2 separate regions of the Homo sapiens genome follow, and region 1 is linked to region 2. Evidence: fine-mapped expression QTL. Tissue or cell type: whole blood. Region 2 holds a variant in brackets; the other region holds the start of a gene. All regions are shown on one strand. Distances are from middle to middle.

Region 1 (7,263 bases), 130 kb after region 2:
TGCGGAAGGCCACAGGGTCCTCTGCCTAGGAAAACCAGAGACCTTTGTTCACTTGTTTATCTGCTGACCTTCCCTCCACTATTGTCCTATGACCCTGCCAAATCCCCCTCTGCGAGAAACACCCAAGAATGATCAATAAAAAAAAAAAAAAAAAAAAAAAAGAGTATGTCAGCATAGTATTAGGCCCAGTGACATGTCACAATATCCTCTTTGGGCAGAACCTAGAAAGAAAGAGGCAGAGAGTCATGTGAGCTAGGTGCTGAGCCCAGTAATACATCACAATCCCTTCTGTAAGCAGGAGCCAGGCAGGAGAAGAGAGCCATATTACCTGTGTGATGGGTGCAGGGATATGTCACAAGATCTTCTGTAGGCAGGACCTAGGCAGTAGAGTTACATCACCTGGGTGTTGGACTCAGCAAAAGTCACAGTGGCCCACATGGGCAGGGCACAGGCAGGAGAGTCATATAACCTATGTGTGGGGCCCAGCCATATGACACAATGTCCCCTGTGGAAGAGCCAAGGCTGGAGAGAAGATTCACACCACCTGGGTACAAGATGTAGTGATGTCAAAATGTCCCCTGTGGGTAGTGCCAAGGCAGTAGAATAGTCACACCACCTCGGTACTGGGTCCAGGGATATGTCACAATCCCTTCCATGGGCTAGGCCAGGGCAGGGGCACCAAATCACTCTGGTGCTGGGTAAAGTCATATGTCATAATGACACCAGCAGGAATGTTCAGACATGAGATTATGCATCTGGACTGGAAAGAATCAACACATCAAAAACATGACCAGACCGTGCACAGTGGCTCACACCTGTAATCCCAGCACTTTTGGAGGCCACGGAGGATACCTGGAACCCAGGAGTCCAAGACTATCCGGGGCCAACATGGTGAGACAGCATCTCTATTAAAAAATAATAATTAAAGTTAAAAAAGAAATATATATCCAGAGCATGGACAACATAGCAAGATCACATCTCTACTAAAAAGATGATACAGGCTGGGTGCCAGTGGCTCACGCCTGTAATCCCAGAACTTTGGGAGGCTGAGGTGGGCGGATCACAAGGTCAAGAGATCGAGATCATCCTGGCCAACATTGTAAAACCCCATCTCTACTAAAAACACAAAAATTAGCTGGGCGTGGTGGCGCACACCTGTAGTCCCAGCTACTCGGGAGGCTGAGGCAGGAGAATCACTTGAACCCAGGAGGTGGAGGTTGCAGTGAGCTGAGATCATGCCACTGCACTCCAGCCTGGGTGACAGTGTGAGATTGTCTCAAAAAAAAAAAAAAAAAAAAAAAAAAGATGATAGATAGATAGATCAGAAAGACAGAGACAGAGCCAGCCAGATAGACAGAGCTGGACAGACAGAGAGAGATGATAGACAGATAGATAGATAGATAGCCAGCCAGCCAGGCAGGATGGTGCATGCCTGTAATCCCAGCACTTTGGGAGGTCAAGGCTGGTGGATTGCTTGATCACAGGAGTTCGAGACCAGTCTGAGAAACATGGCAGAACCTCATTTCTACAAAAATAAAAAGTAAAAAATGCAAAATAAAGAGCCAGTGTGGTGGTACGTGACTGTAGTACCAGCTACTGGGAGAACTAAGACGGAGGATCCCCTGAGCCCAAGGAGGTCCAGGCTGCAGTGAGCTGTGATCACACACCTGCACTTCAGCCTGGGTGACTAAGAAGACCTCATTTAAAAAAACATACACACACACACACACACACACACACGTATGAAAGAAGAAATTTAAAACAGCAACTTCAGTGTGCAGGAAGGTGCTTAAGAGAGAAAACAAAACAAAACAAAACAATAGTAACTCAATGTACCGTGGAAACAAACTCAAAGTGGGGCTAGAAAAAAAGAAAAAAAAACCCAGAAAGATCCCGAGCCTCAGCTACTCTGGAGGCAGAAACAGGAGGATGGGGCCGGGCATGGTGGCTCACACCTGTAATCCCAGTGCTTTGGGAGGCCAAGGTGGACGAATCACCTGAGGTCGGGAGTTCCAGACCAGCCTGACCAACATGGAGACCCCATCTCTACTACAAATACAAAATTAGCTGGGTGTGGTGGCGCACGCCTGTAATCCCAGCTACTCAGGAGGCTGAGGCGGGAGAATCGCTTGAACTCGGGAGGTGGAGGTTGCAGTAAGCCGAGATTGCCCCATTGCACCCCAGCCTGGGCAACAAGAGCGAAAACTCAAAGAAAGAAAAACAGACAGAAAGAGAAAGAGAAGAGAAGAGAAGAGAAGAGAAGAGAAGAGAAGAGAAGAGAAGAGAAGAGAAGAGAAGAGAAGAGAAGAGAGAAAAGAAAAGAAAAAAGAAAAGGGAGGATGACCTGGGTGAGTCCGGGCAGGTGGAGGGCGCGTGAGCCGTAATCGCACCCTCTGCTGGACCTAAGCGGTACTGCCGCGGGCGAGAGCTATCTAGTCCGTCTTAAACATCTCAAGCTGGAGGCCAAACCCTAACCTTGGGGCTGACATCTGGTCGACCCAGCGGCTGGACAGAGAAGCCAGCCGGTGGCGAGGGCAGAGGCCCACCGGGTCCACACTACGCGCCAAGTGTGGCCGAGTGTGGCGCGCGGGGCCTGAGCCCGTCCGTCTGGAGTATAACTCCGCCAACCTTCCTTCCCAGCGCTCTCCCACACTGTCTGCTGGTCCACTAAGACGGGGAAGAGCTCAAGGGGGGGCGACCGGCCCCTACTCCCCGCCGACCCCTCCTCCCCGCTGCTGAGTGGGAGAGGCCCAGGACCTGGACCGCCACTTCCAGACCACACAGCCACCCCTGAAACGGGGGCTGCCGGGCCACACCCTCTGACGCCCGCGCCTCAGCCATCCCACCACGCTCCCACAGCGGCGTCCCAGCCAGGGCGACGAGCCACCCGCAGGGTGGGAAGAGGAGGAAACCAGAGGGGGTGGACACCAAGCAAGGGAGCCCCACGAACCTGCGGCACCCTCAGAGCAGCATGTGGCCCCTTCGGCGCTCGGAAAGCCCACGGGCGGACCCTTCCAGGCTCTCGGAAGATGGCACAGGACGGTCCCTGATTCTCCATGGGGACTTGGGAAAAGAAATCGGCCAGAGCCTCAAACGGCCAGGACACACATGGGCCCGCAACCGGGCCTGGGGGGTGTCCCCGGCCCCCTGCATCATGCCTGGTGGGTTCCGAGGGTCGGGCCTCCGCAGCTGCGGTGAGCTGGGGACCAGCCCGGGCAGCCCCACACTAAGCTCATGCCGGGAGCACGGTAACAGCCTCCCCTCCACAGCCCTACACGCCAGAGCTATGACTCACAAGGGACGCGCCAGAGCTCTGGCACCATCGGGACTGTTCTGCTGAAGTCTGCAGGACTCCCGAGCTCTGCTCAGCTCACAGCGGGGGCTGTCCCTCCCTCGGCAGCTGCCACTGGAGCTCCAGAGGACAAGAGAACTCTAGAAAGGTGGCCGCCCCTGTGGGCCACAAGCCGTGCCGTCAGCCCAAGCGGCCTCTGGAGGAGGCCTGTACTGCTAGCCGGCCGCTAGGAGGCGCCAAACAACCACCCACGCAATAATCAGCCAGGAAAGAATGAAAAAATACATATATATGCATATACTGATCAAAGAACAATCATACCCAGTCAGGGCGACGATTTTCTAGGCAACAAGGAAGAAGCCAACTTTGAGGTAGGGACAGTAGAGAAGACACAGTTGACCCAGTCTGTGCACAGGCTTCCTTTTCTGTGAGACCTTGGTTTAGGGGACATAACTATATTTCTTTGTAACACAATTACTTATTATAAACGTTATGTTTGTTTATTTACTTATTTGCTTTTTGATTGGAGTCTTTTTTTTTTTTTTTTGAGACGGAGTCTTGCTTTGTCACCCAGGCTAGAGTGCAGTGGGGCAATCTTGGCTCACTGCCATCTCCGCCTCCCGGGTTCAAGCGATTCTAGTACCTCAACCTCCTGAGGAACTGGTATTACAGGCACGCACCACCTCGCCCGGCTAATTTTTTATTGTTAGTAGACACGGGGTTTCGCCATGTTGGCCAGGCTGGTCTCAAACTCCTGACCTCAGGTGATCCAGCCGCCTCAGTCTCCCAAAGTGTTGGGATTACAGGCGTGAGCCACCACGCCCAGCCGATTTTTTTTTATTTCTTATGTGTATGGTCCTGTGATAGACCAGGGGACTTGTAACCTCAGAGTCCATGAGGCCAGAAGTTAACGTCCTAAATGTCTATTTAGAATGAACTTAAATGAACCAAACTCTCTGCCACGAAACTCTCAGAAAGACAAGAGATTAAAAAAAAAATTGCAACCTGGCAATGAATCACGCCTGTAATCCCAGTACTTTAGGAGGCCAAGGCAGGTGCATCGCTTCATCCCAGGAGTTCGAGACCATCCTGGGCAACATGGTAAAACATCATCTCAACCCAAAATACAAAAATTAGCCAGTTTCATAACCTGATCTCAAAATACATAAATAAATAGATTAAAATTCAAAAATAAAATTTAAATTTTAAAATGCTGAGTTCTGTTCATTTTGCTTCCTACCCAGAGAAGGGCATAAAATATCTGTTGCTTGCTTGTTTGTTTTTGACAGGGTCTCACTCTGTCACCCAGGCTGGAGTGCAGTGGCACCATCATGGCTTACTGCAGCCTCAACCTCCCCAGACTTAGATGATCCTCCCACCTCAGCCTCCCAAGTAGCTGAAATCACAGGTGTGTGCTGGCACACCTGGCTAATTTTTGTATTTTCGGTACAGACAAGTTTTCCACATGTTTCCCAGTCTGGTCTCAAACTCCTGGGCTCAAGTGATTCTCCCGTGTTGGCCTCCAGAAGTGTAGGGATTGCAGGAATCGGCCACCACGCCTGGCCTTACTTAATACATCTGATCTCACTACATTCTGACACTAAAGCCTCACATCAAAAAGTTAGGAAGATCTCAAGTTAACAACATAACATCACAACTAAAAGATCTAGAGAACAAGGCCAGGCACGGTGGCTCACGCCTGTAAACCTAGCACTTTGGGAGGCCGAGGCGGGCGGATCACAAGGTCAGGAGATCGAGACCATCCTGGCTAACATGGTGAAACCCCATCTCTACTAAAAATACAAAAAATTAGCCAGGTGTGGTGGCACATCCCTGTAGTCCATCCCAGCTACTTGGGAAACTGAGGCAGGAGAATCGCTTTAACCTAGGAGGCGGAGGTTGCAGTGAGCCGAGATTGCACCACTGCACTCCAGCCTGGGCAACAGAGCGAGACTCCATCTCAAAAAATAAATAAATACAATAAAATAAATAAATAAAAGAACTAGAAAACCAAAAGCAAACAAATCCCAAAGCTAGAAGAAAACAAGAAATAATCAAAATCAGAGCTGCACTGAACAAGACAGTGACATGAAAACACATTCAAAAGACCAACAAATCCAGGAAGTATTTTTTTGGAAAAAATAACTAAAAAGACCACTAGCTAGACTAATAAGAAGAGAGAGAAGATTCAAATAAACATAATCAGAAACAATAAGGGGGATATTACCACTGACCTCAGAGAAGAGAACCATCAGAGAATATTATGAACAAGTCGATGCACATGAACTAGAAAATCTAGAAGAAATGGAAAAATTTCTGGAAGCATACACCCTATCAAGACTGAACCAGGAAGAAACTGAATCCCTGAACAGAACAATAGTGAGTTCTGAAATTGAGGCAGTAATAAATAGCCTACCAATCAATAAAAGTCCAGGACCAGGTGGACTCACAGCTGAATTCTCCCAGATGTACAAAGAAGAGCTGGTACTGTTCCTACTGAAACTATTCCAAAAAATGTAGGAGAAGGGACTCTCCCTAAACTCATTCTATGAGGCCAGGACCAACCATCTTGACATGAAAACCTGAAAAAGATACAACAAAAAAGAAAGCTTCATGTCAACATCCTTGATGAACATTGATGTAAAAATCTTCAACAAAATACTAGCAAAGTAAATTCAGCAGCAAATCAAAAAACTTATCCACCATGATCAGGTAGGCTTCATCTCTGGGATGCAAGTTTGGTTCAACATATCCAAATCAATAAATATGATTCATTACAGAAACAGAACTAGGGGCAAAAACCACATGATTATTTCAATAGATGCAGAAAAGACTTTCATTACAGTTCAACATCTATTCATGTTAAAAACTCTCAATAAACTAGGTATAGAAAAAAAAGACACCTCAAAATGATAAGAGCCATCTATGACATACCCACAGCCAACATTATACTGAATGGGCGAAAGCTAGAAGCATTCTCCTTGAAAACCAGAATGAGACAAGAATGTCGTCTCTCATCATTCCTATTCAACATAGTACTGGAAGTTCTGGTCTGGGTAATCAGGCAAGAGAAAGAAAGAAAGGGCATCCAAATACGAAGAAAGGAAATCAAACTATTCTTGTTTGCAGATTACATGATCCTATATATAGAAAACCCCATAGTCTCAGCTCAAAAGCTCCTTAAGCTGATAAACAACTTTGGCAAAGTCTCAGAATGCAAAATCAATGTGCAAAAATTACCAGCATTCCTATACACAAACAACACTCAAGCCGAGAGCCAAATCATGAACAAACTCACATTCACAGTTGCCACAAAAAGAATAAAATATCTAGGAATACACCTAACTAGGGAGGTGAAAGATCTCAAGGAGAACTACAAACTGCTGCTCAAAGAAATCAGAAATGACACAAACAAAACACATTCCATGCTCATGAATAGAAAGAATCAATATCATTAAAATGTCCATACTGCCAAAAGCAATTTATATATTCAATGCTATTCCCAATAAACAACCGCTGACATTCTCATAGAATTTAAAGTAATTATTTCAAAATTTATATGAAACCAAAAAAGCCTGAATAGCCAAGGCAATCTTAAGCAAAAATAACAAAGCTGGAGGCATCACGCTACTCAACTTCCAGCTATACTACAGGGCTACAGCACCAAAACAGCATGGTACTAGTACAAGAACAGAAACATAGATCAATGGAACAGAATAGAGGGCCAGAAATCAAGCTGCACACCTGCAACCATCTGACCTTTGACAAAGCTGACAAAAAGAAGCAATGGGGAAAGAATTTGCAATAAATTGTGCTGGGAGAACTGGCTAGTCATATGCAGGAAATTGAACCTGGATCCCTTCCTTACACCATACACAAAAAATAACTCAAGATGGATTAAAGACTTAAATGTAAAACCCAAACTATAAAAACTCTGAAAGACAACCTAGGCAGTACCATTCAGGACACAG
Region 2 (7,756 bases):
GTAGTGATTAATTCTCCCCCTGAGATAGCAGTGAGGGAAATCAAGGAGGGTTTTATAGAGGAGGTGACATCTGAGTGGGTGTCAGAGTTTAACAGAAGCTTTTGTGTCAATGTTGATGCAGAGTATACCATTTTAAAGAAATTATTTTTTAGGCCACATGCAATGGCTCATGCCTGTAATCCCAGCACTTTTGGAGGTTGAGGCAGGCAGATCACCTGAGATCAGGAGTTCTGTAGTGGGATATTTTAAGGAATCAGAGATACTGAGGGATTGAGGAGGATATTTATTATTTAGGTGCACCGACCCAGTCAGATTTACATCCAAAGGACTGAGCCCTGAACAAAGAGCTAAGTCACCTTTTAAGCATTTTGTGGGGCAGGGGGAGATCTGTGCAGGGGGAAGCATATTACAGAAGTGAGAAACAAAGAGAGTTATTCAATTAATTGAAACATGCATTACATCATTTCTTACTTTTCAAGGAAAAACATGTTTTATGACTTGAGTTGATCTGTCTAGTGATCTTGCAGCTGCACAGCTAGAGAAACAGAGTCTTCACAATGCCTGGGAAAGAAGAGATAAGGCTCACTAGCCACAGAAAAACAGGCAGTTAATTTTTAAAGGACTCCAGCTCTTTCTCTTTCTCATACATACAACCGAGTTTCTGTTTACACATTCTTTAATTTCTTTTTATTCCTGTTCCATTCCTCCCTTTGGTGCTTTTTATAACAAAGATGTTAACAGAAAGCACCACTATCTGTCACCTCTTCACAGGGCTGTGCTTCTTCTTCTACTGGCAGTGGCTGATAATCTTGTTAATGCCATCAACTGCACGGTAGTTTTTTTGGTTACTATTGCCTCTATAGTTGACTGAATACTCCTAATAAACAGAGGTAAAAGGCAAGGGAGGATGAGGCAGATGCCAAAAATAAGCAAGAACCCACCAATGAGGGTTTTAATTTTTTTTTTTTTAAGGTTGAGAACCATCCTCCAAACAAGGAATCCAGGGACCACCCAGATCAAGTTTGAACTGGAACATAGGTGAACTCGTGCATTCTAGCTGTGATTTCCATGACAGCTCGGTCATTATCATCAATTTCTAGGCAACAGTTGGTTAAATTAAAATTTTCACATACTCCTCCTTCTGAGGCTAATAGGTAATCTAAACCCAGCCTATTTTGATATATGGCATGCCTCATTTGTGTTGCTTGTATTGCCAATAAATCTAGTGCCCTTGAGGTTTCATTGGTTATAATTTCAAGGACTGCCTGCAACCTTATGATGCGGTTGAGCATATAGATTGGGGTACGGTACCTCCATGACCCATCTTGCGCCTAGGTAGCTGGCCCATAACATTTAATGATTCTTTCAGGAGGCCATTTATTATCTTTCTAGTTTCCTATGTCCACATCTTTTTTGATATTTGTGTCTCTTTTTGTTATTATGCTTCTAGTTGTTTTTTTATTTTTATCATAAACTGGATACCCTAAGAGTTCCTCTTGCTTTAGAGGAATTAGAAAGAATGATGGCTTGATTGTTCCTAACGCACATGCCCCTGTCCATTTAGCTGGCAGTTGCTGATATGCCTGTGCTCCACAGATCCAATATAGGCCAGAGGGTGCCTTTCAAGAATTTGGAGCCTCTAGCTGATGCCAAGTGTGGCTTAGAGTAGAGAATTGAGAGAAAGGGTTTGGATCTCCATAGAGTTTTGTTTTTAGTCTCATCACAATACTGTTGCCCTAGGCAGGTTGTTTCTCACACTGCCTCTGTGAAAGCCTTTCCTCATCGGGTGATACAGTACTTTCCAATTATGGAGGTAGTTGACAACCAAACACTGGCTGAGGCTGTTGGTTCACTGGCAGTGTTAAGTGAAGGGATCTTGTGGCATTAATTCCTTTGCCTCCCATGGCCACTGGTCTTCCATATTAGTTCTTCTACATACATAGCATGAGGAAATTCCTAAGCTGCCAGCTATGTTTTCAGCTAGTTGAGCAAATAAGTTTTTGGTTGATGGGGGGAAGCTTCAGCATTGACTGATCAAAATGCTTATAGAATGACTTATGGACCTGGAATTGTGGGGTTGGATACATTTGAGTCCTTCTAGTCTTTTTGACAATTAGTAGTGGAACTCCAAGTTCTGCTCCTTGTCTATCAACTCATAATAGTGTCATCTGTCCTGTAGACCAAGAAGGTAGCTCTGGCTTTAAGATAGTAAAATTTAAAGGATTGTATGTTCTTGTCTTACAATCTGGTTTGGTTGACATACTAATTAGCAGAGCAGTCCTTCCTGAATGTAAGTGTTGGAGCTGTGTTAGCATAGACCACTGAATGTTCAGTCTCGACATCTGATTTGTGGTTTTCTGTACAGATGTTTAGGACTGTTGCTGCTAAGTCTCTCTTGTGTTAAACTATTGCAGACTGTTTCCGGTTGTATGTGCAGGTTCCTAACTTTGTTCCTGTACATTCATAGTCAGTAACGTACAGTAGAGGTTTAACTAGGGTATTCCTTATCCAGGTAGTGTGTACACAGTGTGGGCATTCTTCTAGGGATTTCTCCCCTTCTAGTATAGGCAGAAATGGTAACAACGTCAGTGTATGTAATAGAAACATGCTTACACTACACATGGGCATGGCAAACCTTCCTCTGGGCATAGACGTTTGCAGTATTTGCAGTAATAACATAACAACAGAACAATCAGTATTGACAGAATTATAACTAGGCTTATAAATTGTATCCACATTTACTTATCCGGAGATTGTCCCCTTAGCTTTGGCTGTGCGTAGACTAGTCAGCTTCCAGGATGTGACTAGAGCAGAGCTTACAGGATCCTCAAGCTTCAGCCGTGCATAGACTGACCAGCCTCCAGTGTGGTCAGAGCAGGGCAGTTGTCCTTCTTACCGGTGGTTGGGTTTCACCATGGGACTATTCGGGTGGGGCAATCTGGGTCTTGTTGGCTAATCCACTGTTCGTCGTTGGGAGTCACTGCTGCCACTGGTTTCAGCCGACTATGGTGAATCCAAGGTGTGAAACGTGCAACTTTAACAGCAGTGGGACTAGGCATGATCACGATATGGGGCCTATCCTATATGGGTCCTAGTGTGGTTGGATTCCATTTTTTTTCCTTTTTTTTTTTTTTTGAGATGGAGTCTCGCTCTGTCGCCGAGGCTGGAGTGCAGTGGCGCAATCTCAGCTCACTGCAAGCTCCACCTCCTGGGTTCACGCCATTCTCCTGCCTCAGACTCCTGAGTAGCTGGGACTACAGGGGCCCGCCATCATGCCGGGCTAATTTTTTGTATTTTTAGTAGAGATGGGTTTTCACCGTGTTAGCCAGGATGGTCTCGATCTCCTGACCATGTGATCCACCTGCCTTGGCCTCCCAAAATGCTTGGATTACAGGCGTGAGCCACCACACCCTGCCTCCATTTTTTAACTTAAACAAAATCCTTAGGTTTGAAAGGGTGTACTGGGTCTGTTTGACTTATAGGCATTTTTTTTCTATACCTAGCCATGCATTTTTGCATGGCCATACTTAAAGCCTGAATTTGCCTTCTTAAAGTTAGTTCTTCTAGTTTACAGAGATTACCTTTAATCTGACTTATGATGGGGGGTGGCTGGCTGAATAAAATCTTACAGGGCGAATACCCAGTTGTTTGGTGGGAGTGCACCTGACTCGGAGGAGGACAACAGACAAGACCTGATCCTACTTTTGATGAGTTTGACAAAATTTCTTCAGCAGCTGTTTGAGTGTCTGGTTTATGCACTCCACTTTACCTGAGCTCTGCGGCCTGTAGGCTGTATGTAATTTCCACTTTATTTTAATAGTCAAGTAAAGTCCTGAACTATTTCAGCCACAAATGTTGGTCCATTGTTTGATCTTAGAGTTAGAGACAGTCCAAATCTGGGAATAATGTCTTTTAACAACACCTTGGTCACCTCTAGTGCCTTCCCTGTCTGGGTGAGGAAGGCCTTGACTTATCCTGAAAAGGTGCAAATGAACACCAACATGTACTGATAGCCCTCCCTCTCAGGGCAATTAGGTGAAGTCTATAAGCAGTTTTTCACAGGGCACGGCTCCCTGGCTCCTGTTTCCTGAACTCCCAGGGGCGGAGTAGGCCCTCCTTGTCATGGATTGTTCTGAGTGCAAGTTAAACACTGTTTGTTTACAAATGGCTTGAGTAATAGCAGTGAGCCATGGTGCATAGAAATGATGCCTTAATAATGTCTTTAGTGCTGTTTTTTTTTTTTTATGTGAGTTCTTTGGTGGAATTGTTTTACAAATCTGGAGGTCACCATTTCTGGTATGGCTAGCCTCCCACTGGAGAATTTTTACCATCTTCCTTTAGTGTAGTTCTTATTTTTCTGGGCAAAACAAGCCCTTTCACTTGGAGCATAGCTTGGGATCTCCGGGAGGGGAATCTCTGGGAAGAGAAGCATAGCTAAGACTTCCTCTTTAGAAGGTGGAGTTGTCATTGCAGCCTGCTTTGCCTCTTTGTCTGCTTTTTTATTTTTATTTTTTTAGCCTTTAGTGTTCTTCCTTTTTTGGTTCCCCTTGCA[G/A]TGCATCACTGCCACCTCTTTTGGGTCCTATACAGCATTTAAGAGCTGTAGAATTTCTTCCTTGTACTTTATTTCTTTACTTTCAGCAGTTAAAAGTCTTTTTTCTTTGTAAATCACCTCATGAACATGCAAAGTGGCAGAAGCATATTTGGAATCTGTGTAAATATTTGTCTTTTGGTCTTTTGCTAGCCAGAGAGCTCTTGTCAGAGATATTAGCTCTGCTTTCTAAGCAGAAGTTTCTGTAGGCAGAGACTGCACCTCTACTACTGAGTCCAAAGTCACCACTGCATACCCAGCTCGGCAGACTCCCTTTAGTGATTTTAGTGAAAATCACTGATTTTCAGCAGCCTCAGGGTTAAATGGAGTGCACAATCAAAATGCCTTACAAAGTCTTTCATAAAACTTTAGTATGAAACTGCTTCCATCAGTAAAATATTTAATGTCCAGTTTCCCTGAGGGGCTATCAAATCTCTCTGGCTTGAGAAAACTTCATCTATCATGTTGACACAGAAATGAAAGGGGTCTCCTGGCACTGACTTGATGAGGAGCAATGTAGCCAGGTTTAGGCTATTCACAGTCTCTAAAGTCAGTTTATTAGCTTCTTGCACCAGTAGGGCAGTGGCAGCTAGTGCTTTAATAGCTTTAAAACAAAGAGGCCATCCAAGTGCCACAAAGTCTAATTGCCTGGATAAGTATGTCACTGGGTGATGCCATAAACTTATGGCTTGAGTTAGAACCCTTATGGCCTCCCTTTCACTTGTGGACATACAAGAAGATAGGCTTAGTTAGTTTATCCGGCAGTCCTAAAGCTGGGGCCTGAGTCAAGCTTTTTTGATTTCTTTAAACCCCTTCTCCTGGGAGCGTCTCTGCCCGGCCGCCATCCCATCTAGGAAGTGAGGAGCGTCTCTGCCCGGCCCCCCATCGTCTGAGATGTGGGGAGCGCCTCTGCCCCGCCGCCCCGTCTGGGAGGTGAGGAGCGTCTCTGCCCGGCCGCCCCGTCTGAGAAGTGAGGAGCCCCTCCGCCCGGCAGCCGCCCCGTCTGAGAGGTGAGGAGCCCCTCCGCCTGGCAGCCGCCCGGTCTGGGAAGTGAGGAGCGTCTCCGCCCGGCAGCCACCCCATCCGGGAGGGAGGTAGGGGTCAGCCCCCCGCCCGGCCAGCCGCCCCATCTGGGAGGGAGGTGGGGGGTCAGCCCCCGCCCGGCCAGCCGCCCCGTCTGGTAGGTGGGGGGTGCCTCTGCCCGGCCGCCTCTACTGGGAAGTGAGGAGCCCCTCTGCCCGGCCACCACCCCGTCTGGGAGGTGTACCCAACAGCTCATTGAGAACGGGCCATGATGACAATGGCGGTTTTGTGGAATAGAAAAGGGGGAAAGGTGGGGAAAAGATTGAGAAATCGGATGGTTGCTGTGTCTGTGTAGAAAGTAGTAGACATGGGAGACTTTTCATTTTGTTCTGTACTAAGAAAAATTCTTCTGCCTTGGGATGCTGTTGATCTATGACCTTACCCCTAACCCTGTGCTCTCTGAAACATGTGCTGTGTCCACTCAGGGTTAAATGGATTAAGGGTGGTGCAAGATGTGCTTTGTTAAACAGATGCTTGAAGGCAGCATGCTCGTTAAGAGTCATCACCACTCCCTAATCTCAAGTACCCAGGGACACAAACACTGCGGAAGGCCGCAGGGTCCTCTGCCTAGGAAAACCAGAGACCTTTGTTCACTTGTTTATCTGCTGGCCTTCCCTCCACTATTGTCCTATGACCCTGCCAAATCCCCCTCTGCGAGAAACACCCAAGAATGATCAATTTAAAAAAAAAAAAAAAAAAAAGATAAGCTCCATGGCATCTGCCATGAAAGGCTCTGGCATCTGCCACGAAAGGCTCTACCCACATCAAAGGTGTTCCTTGCAAGACCACTGGACTGCCTGGCCCAGACCAGGAGATTCTTTTTGTCTCTGTTGCTCTTCATGGACTGGTTCATTAACCTTTTTTTCCCATTTCTTTTCTCTTGATGTTAAATGTTATTTTGTTTGTTGTAGATGTTTAACCCATAACATTTATATATTGATTAGGTGTACTATTATGTATAATTTGCAATATAGAGTGACTTGTGGAGTGGCTTCAAAAAAAAATAAATAAATAAAAGCCTTCTCCTGGTTGGCCTCCTAGAGGAGAGGCTCTTTCTTTCCTCCTCTTTGTGGCTTTGTATAATGGCTTAGCCATGAGCAAGAAATTTGGGATCTAAATGTGGCAGAACCTTGCTGCCCTTAGGAACTCTCTTATTTGACACCAGGTTGTTGGAGTAGGAAGTACACAAACAGCCTGCTTTTGTTTACTACTAAGCCATCTTTCCTCTTGGTTTATATAAAAGCTTAAATACTGGACACTTTTAGAGCAGATTTGAGCTGTTTTCTGATACTTTATATCCTGCCTTTCACAGCAGGTGCAGGGGGTCTTGGGTTTTTCCTGGGTGCAGTAGCCCTTGGCCGGTGGTTTTTTTTTTTCATACCATGGCCTTGACAATTCTCCTTATTCTTTTTATGTTTTTGAGATGGAGTCTTGCTCTGTCACCCAGGCTGGAGTGCAGTGGCGCGATAGCTCACTGCAAGCTCCGCCTCCAGGGTTCACGCCTTTCTTCTGCCTCAGCCTCCCGAGTAGCTGGGACTACAGGTGCCTGCCACCATGCCCGGCTTTTTTTTTTTTTTTTTTTTTTTTTTTTTGTATTTTTAGTAGAGACAGGGTTTCACCGTGTTAGCCAGGATGGTCTCGACCTCCTGACGTCGTGATCCACCTGCCTCGGCCTCCCAAAGTGCTGGGATTACAAGCGTCAGCCACCATGCCCGGCCCATTCTCCTTATTCTTTTGACGTGTATCCTTCTAGTGTCCTTTCCTTTTGCACCGTGCACATAAATCTCTCTCTAGCCTTGGCCAGCTTTCAAACTCCTGTCCGGACTAGCCTTTTCCGTGACTGTGTTCACGCCTGCGTCCATGCCTCTTTGCAAAGCCAGCTTCTCTTCCCACAAGGGCTGCTGCTAGTAAATTAGCCTTTCTTAAGCCTCTGATCAGCTTTCTTCTTTGCCTCCTGATCTCGTTAATGTACACCCTGGTAGCCACTTTAATAAGCTGAGTAGCATTCATGCCTACAGAGCTTCTAACTTCTGCAATTTATGCCTGATATCTCCTTGGGTCTGCCTTACAAATGCCGTATTCACC

The links. PIP is the estimated chance that this variant, and not a neighbour inherited with it, causes the effect.
Region 1: LINC00664 starts here. The variant in region 2 is fine-mapped to the expression of LINC00664 in whole blood (TOPMed, PIP 0.90).

What each region holds. Positions count from the first base shown.
Region 1 is chr19:21,479,219-21,486,481 of GRCh38, reverse strand. LINC00664 (long intergenic non-protein coding RNA 664) reads right to left here and starts at 2,767. Exons shown (of 11, transcript NR_037194.1): 1 at 2,476-2,767; 2 at 329-377.
Region 2 is chr19:21,605,131-21,612,886 of GRCh38, reverse strand. The region is part of intron 3 of LOC105372323 (a long non-coding RNA gene); the gene reads right to left. Among named protein-coding and RNA genes, the nearest start is that of ZNF429, 100 kb to the right of the region's middle. The variant G/A (reference allele first, on the strand shown) is at 4,553.